2 separate regions of the Homo sapiens genome follow, and region 2 is linked to region 1. The links come from fine-mapping of genetic effects on gene expression. A gene starts in region 1. The other region holds a variant in brackets. All regions are shown on one strand. Distances are between the middles of the regions.

Region 1 (4,517 bases):
GGCACCAGGCCAGGGCCCTTGATACAACACCAACAGCCTCTCTTTGAGTTTTCCCTCCAGGCAGCAGCATGTAATTATCAACATTAGTATTTAGAATTTATATGCGGCTTTTGCTTCACTGGCTTTTTTATTATCCTTTCAATTAGTATTTCAGTATGCAGCCCAGGCATGGAGCACAGCCAGGGTGGGGAGGGGAGCAGCAGAGGGAGGCCAAGGCCAAGTAGGTGGCCATGAGCCCCTGTGAGAGGAAGGCCAGAGAAAGCAAAGGTACAGGAGGGTGGCCTGACATCAGAGACAATGTCTTGTGTGTGTGTCTGTGTGTGTCTATGTGTGTCTGTGTTGTGTGTGTGTCTGTATGTCTGTGTTTTGAGGAGGAGGGTGTCTGTGAAGATGAAGTATGGGCCTGAGATGAGTGGTCCAAGACCCTTGCTGGCCTCAGGGGGCTTCTCACTGCATTATCCACTAATGGGGCAGAGACAGGAAGAGCAATAATATATTTAGCACCCAACAAGTTAAACACCAATACCAGCCCTGAGACAGACCCCAGGATAAGGGAGTTCTCTGTCCTGCCTTGAAGGGAAGGAGACCCAAGCCCCATGATGTGGACTTGCTCCTGGCTCCTACTGTGCACTCTAGGAGCTACACCGAACTGTGCCAGATGCCCACATCCTGTGGGAGTGAAGGAGTCCTGGAGTCCACCATGCTATGTGCTATAGCATCCTCAGCTGGATGCTAGGAGACTAGTGGATGCTAGTGGAATCCCACTGCCAGACCCTGGTTCCTTGTGTCTTCCAGCCCCAGCTGCAGCCTGCTCTGTGGTTTACTTTGCAAACCCACACTTACCTTCAGAAAATGAGAATACTCTCTCCTCCTGACCTCCTGGGACTTTGGTGAGACTCAAGACCTTGTGAAGGCGCTCGAAGAATAGGTTCATCCACTGGTAACACTCAAGATAGGGCATCCCCATGCAAAAAAAAAAAAAAAAAAGGAAACGCAGGTGGAGGTGGATAAAGAGCAGCACAGGGTGGAGACAAAGCAGCCAAAAGGCCTGCATTCGGATCTCAGGGCTCTTGCTGGGAAAACTCAGGGGGACGCTCACTCACTGAGTGCCTATTGAGTGCCAATGTGTCACGTATGTCATCTCATTTTGTCCTCATATGACCCCTCACTTTGTCCATGAGGAACCTGAGGCTTTAAGAGGTTAGGTAACTTGCTCGAGGTTATACAGCAAGTGGGACCCTAGGACCAAAACTTAGGTCCATGAGCTTTAAAACCTGTGCCCTTCCCAGCACAGCACTGAATCTCCAAATCACAGGATTTCATCCTTGTGAGCCCAGCGTCCTGGTCTGCAAAATTGGAGGGGGAAGGGGGACAGGGGGAGGGGGGCAGGGGGAGGGGAAGAGGGGAAGAGGGGCACTATATTGCCTAATAGAGTTGTTAAGAAAATTAAATGAGCTTATGTTGATTAAACACATTATCGGGCTTGGTATCTGGTATATAGTAGGTGCTCAATAAATGCTTTCTGTTTGTTTTTCTTTTTAGGGCAGATCAATGTTAAAAACTCAGGGCTGGCTTTGGAGCCTAGGAGCTCCAAAATGCTTCAAGAAGCCCAAGGGCCTCCCATCGCTCTGGGGTGCGCGGGAGGAGGGGAGAGAAGGGCTGGGAAAGAGGGCTCGGCTCCAGGAAGCGGGTACGCGGGTTCCAGCTGCGCGCCCCTCGCTTCGCCGCCTCCTCCGGGCTCCCCCGACTTCCCGCCCCGCCCCGCCCCGGAGCCGGGTCCGGAGTGCCTGGTGGGCTGATTCCGGAGCGTGGAAGGGAGCACGGAGCACGGAAGCGAGAGGGAGGCGGCGGCGGCGGGAGGCGGGAAGGAGGGGGACCCTCCTCGCTGCTCTCCCAAGTCGGCGCGGAGCCGCCTCGGGCCGGGCCGAGGGCTGCGCGGCGGCGGCGGCGGCGGGGCCCGGCCAGGATGCGGGGCTCCCGGGACCGCGCGGGGCGGGGCGGGCGGCGGCGGCGGGCTGCGGGCGGGAGCTGTCCGCGGTGCTGAAGCGGCGGCTGCTCAGGGACGCGGGGACGAGAGCAGGGGAGCCCTCCTGGGAGTTCCACCGCGACCGCGAGGCGGGGGCGCCGTCGCTCACCGGCCCATGCCGAGCCCCCGAGCCCCGCGGAGGAGGCGGGACCGTCCGCGGCGGGACAGGTAAGGGGCGGTCTGGGGGCGCCGCGGGAGCGCAGAGCTAGGCACGGAGCGGGGAGTGAGCTGGGGAGGGCACGGGAGCCCTCTCGGGGCTAGGGGCTCTGACTCCCTGCTTGGCCGCACCTTGCGCTCCGCCAAGGCTTGCACTTCGTCCCTCCCTACCCCTCATCCTGCAGGCTGGGGGTGCTGGGAGGGGGCTGATGAACTGGGGTCAAGACACCATAACCTCACAACATCAGGCCTTGACCCTGACCTCAGGCAGCTCCTAGACATCCTGCCTACTGACGGCAAGAAATACTGATTAGAGCCTCAGACTCCCTGGTACCCCAGTCCCCACCAAGGTTTTGCGACACTAGCAAAATCTGAGCAGGCTTCACTAAGCTCCCCTCTTCTCGCACCCAAACCTGTTCACCCAGGTGACTGAGGTGGCTGTGGTACCCCCTGCTCTGAGATTTCTCTGCCCTGGAAATGGCTCTTGGGCCAAGGGATTGGCTCTTGGGCCAAGGCCCCTTAGGATGGATTAACCCATTTCTTCAGGGAAGGAAGGAGGTCCTGGAAGATACCTCAATTTTTTTTCCTATGACACTCTTGACGCTCACAGAAGCAGGCAGGATTTGCATCACATCTCTTGGCGCATGAGGGCAAAGAGTCAGGGAACCTGGGTCCTGTTTTCTATTATGTGCTGGTGACCCTAGACAGAGCCTCCATTAGGAGTTCTCTCTCTTTCTGGCAAGAGTGCGCTGAATGAGCTCATTCAGGCCTGCAAAGTGCTTCTAGTTCTTCAGAGCAGAGTTCTCTATGACTGGCAGAATGTAGCGATCAAAATAAAACTGCGTGGAGGAAGAATTGGCCTACCCTTGTGGCTGACCACTTCTTTCTACTGCTTTATCCCCACCCTCCAACCCAACACAACTTCCCTACCCCCAGGGGTAGAAAGAGCACTAGAGTAGGAGTTCCTGGCTGGGTGCTGGCATTTACTGGCTTTAGCTAGTTCCCTAAGCTCTTTCAACCTCATCCTCCTCACCCCTGGAGTGGGGATAAGGTCACCGCTCTGCTCACCTCAGGGAACTGCCTTGGGGCCCAATGAAAAACAATGCACCTGATTGGAGGCTTGCCACCTGTACATCTCCATACCAGTGTGCGCTGCTGTCACTGTTCCCAACCCCTAGCCAGGCCTGCTGTCAGTGACCTGATTATTGTCACCCCTACCCCCTCTTCTCCCAGCATGGCCATGTCTCCCTTTGTCCTTGGCCACCGTGGGGTCCCAGAATCAGTGAAGCCAAACTTATAAACCTTAAGGAGAAAAAAGTGTGCCCTCCCTTCTTCTCCTCTTCCATCATCACCTATAGGAGATAATATAAGGTAAGAGTCTGACTCACCGGTTTTTATTTTTTCTCCCTAAGAACCACAGATCTAGGGAAAGAGCTCCCTGAAGGCAGGAATTGTGTTGTTTTCATCTCTTTGTCCCCCTTCATGACCCCCTCCCCAACAGCACCTGGAAGATAGTAAGGACTCGGTAATCGGGTGTAAAATGAGGGAATGAAATGTTAAAGTGTATCAGAATAAAAGCATTTAACTGGGAGTCAGAAGCCCTGTGTTCTGGTCACAGATCCGCCGCTGTCTCAGGCAGGTCCATTCCCCTCTGGGGGTTCATTTTTCTCATCTGTAAAAGAAGAGAGTTGGGCTAGATGAGTTAAGATTTCAAGCCCTGATATTCTGTAGGGCTTTCTGAGGCTGTCCTAAACCCATAAACCCCTCAATTCTGCTTGAATACAGGATGCCGGCTTTATCAACCTGGTTTGACAACAAAGTTAATGACCTTTTAGTAATGAACTGGATTTTATGAATGGAGTGAAAGTGAGCAATAGGAACCAGAAAAAGCCATTTATATTTCTGATGTTTTCTTAAGAACCCCCTCTCTTATTTCTCTGGGAAAGCCATAAGTGTGACTCAGAATGACTGAACTGAGAGGGGCTCCTGCCTCCAAGCCCAGAGGCCAGGAACCACCACCCCATTATCCCTGCCACCACCACCACCACCACCACCACCATCTCTTGTGAGTAACAAAGGGCCAGGGACCCCACCATTGGCCATCTCCTACCAGGGACCCTGCCTGGCTATGATCTCCCTCCTAGGAAGACCAGAGGAGGGGACAAGCAGGAAATATCCATCCCTACAGAGAATTTATATTTGTGTTACGTGTGTGTGTGTGTGTGTGTGTATATATATATCAATCAAAATGAGTTTCTCTGATAATAATTTCCCTCAACTGTGGCAGGTCCAGCCGATGCTCAGAAAAACCTTAGCTAATTGGCATTTCGGTAGA
Region 2 (4,000 bases), 110 kb before region 1:
CTCTTAAAAGCTCCTGCAAAGAAACTGTGGATGCAAAATGACACTAGTCCCATAATCACAAGCAATCATTAAAAAACGCAATGCCGACCCTTCTCAGGGGGTCTTACCATGTCACTCAGCCTTATTACAAAGTAAAAATCGTGACGACCTATCAGATGTGACCCCCAAGTACCCCAGGATCCAAATGATCGAGAAGACTATATGAAATACAGATTGATGTAGGCCATTACTAATAACAAACCTTGCGCTAAGTGTGTAAGTGCCCAGAGAGAGCAGCTAATGGTGAAATAATAGCTATCTTGATTAGAAAAACATTTTAAACCACCAAGACACTCAAACTTTGCTGTACAATTGGATAAAGGATAAATATCTCTAACATGCCTCTTGGTATTTGCAAGAATTCATTTCAACAATAAAAATATATGAAAGGCTGGGTGCGGTGGCTCATGCCTATAATTCCAGCACTTTGGGAGGCCAAAGCAGGCGGATCACCTGAGGTCAGGAGTTCAAAACCAGCCTGGCCAACATGGTGAAACCCTGTCTCTACTAAAGATACAAAAGTTAGCCAGCCCTGGTGGCACATGCCTGTAATCCCAGCTACTCGGGAGGCTGAGGCAGGAGAATTACTTGAACCCAGGAAGTGGAGGTTGCAGTGAGCCGAGGTCACGCCACTGCATTCCAGCCTGTGCGACAGAGCAAGACTCCATCTCAAAAAAAAGAAGAAGAAGAAGAAGAAGAAAATATGAAGAACTCTCTTTTTGTAAACCACTAAAGGATGAACCAGTGGACATATATTCTCAACAGTAAATGACTTCCTGGATGACAATAAGCTTTAGCAAACAACACTGAAAGTGTAGCTACTGATGTTATGACTGGGAGAAAAAGGAATTGGGATAAGGTAACAGAGATGGAGGGTGCAGCATTCAGAGACAAGCTATTGCCACAAAGGAGTCAAAGCTAGAAGACGGCAAATTGCTACAGGAAGCCATCATGCAGCTACCTTTATAGAGCAAGACCTTTGAAATATCATGGTATATTTATGGAACTTTGTATGGAATAAGGTCTGTGGCAATTGCTCGTGCCTGCTTAGAATTGCTGGCTATCTATAGGCAAAAGAATTGTCAGACTTATAGCTGAGTTCTCTTTTTGTTCCACAAAAGATAGTATTCCCCTGCCTTTTCCTGTGAAGACAGGTGGCGATCAGAAGTATGCCTCCTGCTAGAGCTTTTCAAGAGGGTTGGCACACTAGTCTGTTCCTCCAAAGTAATGGAGATTTTTTTCCTGTTTTTATTTAATGTCAACTCTTTGGTTTTTTTTTTTTTCTTTGTAAAGTAAGGGGGAATGTTGTGATTTCAAGGCAGGATGTGTATCAGCATAAAAATACTGAGAATAATTTCCTTGTTGGTCAATCTGCAATCAGACATCTGTGTATTTTTAGTATTTCAAAATAAAAAGCAAAAAGTAATAACAATAAAATCCATGTTATATATATAACATGCATGTAGTGTAGTAGATACTATATGTAATAACTATGTATGTGAAGTATATAATACATTTTTCTTAGTATTAACAAAATTTTAATTGACAAATAAAAATTGTATATATTTGTGGTGCACAACTATTTGTTTGTTTGTTTTGAGATGGAGTCTTGCTCTGTCACTCAGGCTGGAGTGCAGTGGCGCAACCTCAGCTCACTGCGACCTCCCCCTCCTGGGTTCAAGCGAGTCTCCTGCCTCAGCCTCCTGAGTAGCTGGGATTACAGGCATGTGCTGCCATGCCCAGCTAATTTTCATATTTTTAGTAGAGATGGGGTTTCACCATGTTAGCCAGACTGGTCTCGAACTCCTGACCTGAGGTGATCCACCTGCCTTGGCCTCCCAAAGCACTGGGATTAAGGCATGAGCCACTGCGCCTGGCTGGTACACAACTGTTGTTCTGAAATAAGTATACATTGTAAAGTGGCTAAATTGCACCCATGTGTATTACCTCATATATTTATTTTTTGTGGTGAGAACACTTAAAATCTACTCTCTTAGCAATTTTCAAGAATACAAGACACTGTTATTAACCATAGTCACTATGTCGTACAACAGATCCTTTGAACTTATTCCTCCTGTATCTAACTGAAATGTTGTACCCTTTGATCAATATCTCCCCTCTCCCCCAGGCCCTGGTAACTACCATTCTACTCTGCTTCTATGGGTTTGCTTTTCTTAGGTCCCATATGTAAGTGAGATCATGTGATATTTGTCTTTCTGTGCCTGTCTTATTTCACTTAGTACTGCTTTTAATAAAAGCGAGGTGGGCTGAGAGGAGTCTGGTGAGAACCAGGAAGCACAGCTGCCCAGGGCGATGGCTTCGGGGGCTGGGGCTCACTGCTGCCGGGTGGGCTGGACATCCAGACTGCACCCGCTTCCCAGCATGGGTGACAGAGGAGCCCAGGGGCCGTCCAGTGAGACCTGTCC[G/A]TATCTCCACTCTTCAGCCTCCCCGGTGATTGAGAATGGCCAGCTGGAGTGTCCTCAGGGGTACAAGAGACTGAACCTCACTCACTGCCAAGGTAGGACCCCCAGGGCCAGGGCTGGGCTCAAGGATGCCGGGGCACACTCCCAGCACCAGACAGGAGGGGTGTCTGTCACTGGCCGAGTGGTCTCCACTGAGTCCCTCTAAGCCCCAGCTTTGGGGAGTGGTGGGGGGCTGCTGATTCCAGGGGACTAAGGAAATCCAGGGACTTGCTTGAGAGTGACAGAGGAAGCCAAGGGGGCCGACACCTCCCCTCGTCCCCATCTCCACCCACACCCACCTGGAACACAGGCTAGGGGCTCTAGGCTATGTGGGGCTGTGTCTGAAGGGGCCACCCCAGTCTGTGCACTTCCACTTTTCTCCTGAGCTGGTCTCCCTGGAGTGGGAAGAATTTCAGCTCTAGGGTGGGAAATCAAGTCAGCCTGAGTTGTTGGGGCCTCTGTGGGCTTTTCCCAACTGAAAACCTTTAGCTACTCAGGCTTCCCTCCCGCTTGCTTCAACCCATAGCCAGGAAAGGGGACGGGGAGCACGGGGGCTTCCTGCCTGGGACAGGCTCCTGGGGCTGGCAGAGGCCAGTGGGGAACAAGGTGGCTTCCCTGTGGGGAGCTTTGACAACTGGACAAACAGTTGTCTGTATGGTTTGCTTTGGGTGGAGCTGGGTCAGAGACAGGGGATTGACCCAGATGGCCTCCAAGGTGCCCTCCTCCTGGAGGTTGCTTCAGAGAGAGGAGTCTGGGGAAGCTCTGCATGGCTGGGCTGTCTTCCTTGGGGGTGCCAGGCTGCAGAAGTGATTCCTAGCCCGTGGATAAGCAAAGGTGCTGGGGCCAAGCAAAAGGGCAGGTCTCTGGCCCAGCCTAGTCCAGAGTCAGACTCCCTCAGGAGCCAGTGGTTTGAGGGCCAAGCAGACAGTGGATGTAGGGAGAAATACGTATTTTTGCCTTTGGAGGGTACATCGGGGCTGTTCATGTCTAAACAGTCACCAGTTGCTTTTCCTCCTGGTATGTTTCCCAATCTGGAGCTTTAAGGTTATACTCAGGATCTCAAATGGGCTCTCTGCCCTCCCTCTACTGAGCCCCAAGATTCAGGACACCAAAGGACCTTCCCTCAGGAGGCCCTGCCCCTGAAACCTCCCCTTCCCATGTATGTGGCTGTGGTCTCTGTGTCTGCGAAGGGACCTGCTCATCTCTGCACCCGCATGCGTCATCTCTCCTCTCTCTCCATCCTTCTCTCCTACTTCCACAGAGTATTGGAGGGGAGGTTACTATGGGCTACATACACTGTGCTAGGAGTACACAGTGATGGAGAAGACAGTCCTGCCCCAAGTGCAGACAGACCCCCTGAACAATCAGGTCTAATGAGCGGGGCATTCTTGAGAGAAAGCAGCAGTCCCTGAGTGCTACAGGATCCCATGGTGGGGGCGCCTTCCCAGACTGGAAGGATCAGGGAAGGCTCCCTGGAAAAGGTGATACCTAAGGCCAAG

Alleles and levels. Alleles are on the strand shown, and positions count from the first base shown. SD is a standard deviation of normalised expression in the study named.
In carriers of allele G in region 2, the expression in thyroid of the gene that starts at base 1,896 in region 1 tends to be lower than with A alone (large effect, 1.0 SD a copy in GTEx).

The links. PIP is the estimated chance that this variant, and not a neighbour inherited with it, causes the effect.
Region 2: its variant is the best candidate, but not a certain one, in a credible set for the expression of SYNDIG1L in thyroid (GTEx, PIP 0.67).

The regions. Positions count from the first base shown.
Region 1 is chr14:74,423,589-74,428,105 of GRCh38, reverse strand. SYNDIG1L (synapse differentiation inducing 1 like) reads left to right here and starts at 1,896. Exons shown (of 4, transcript NM_001105579.2): 1 at 1,896-2,194.
Region 2 is chr14:74,534,483-74,538,482 of GRCh38, reverse strand. It overlaps LTBP2 (latent transforming growth factor beta binding protein 2), which reads left to right. Exons shown (of 36, transcript NM_000428.3): 9 at 2,483-2,557. Among named protein-coding and RNA genes, the nearest start is that of ISCA2, 43 kb to the right of the region's middle. The variant G/A (reference allele first, on the strand shown) is at 2,466.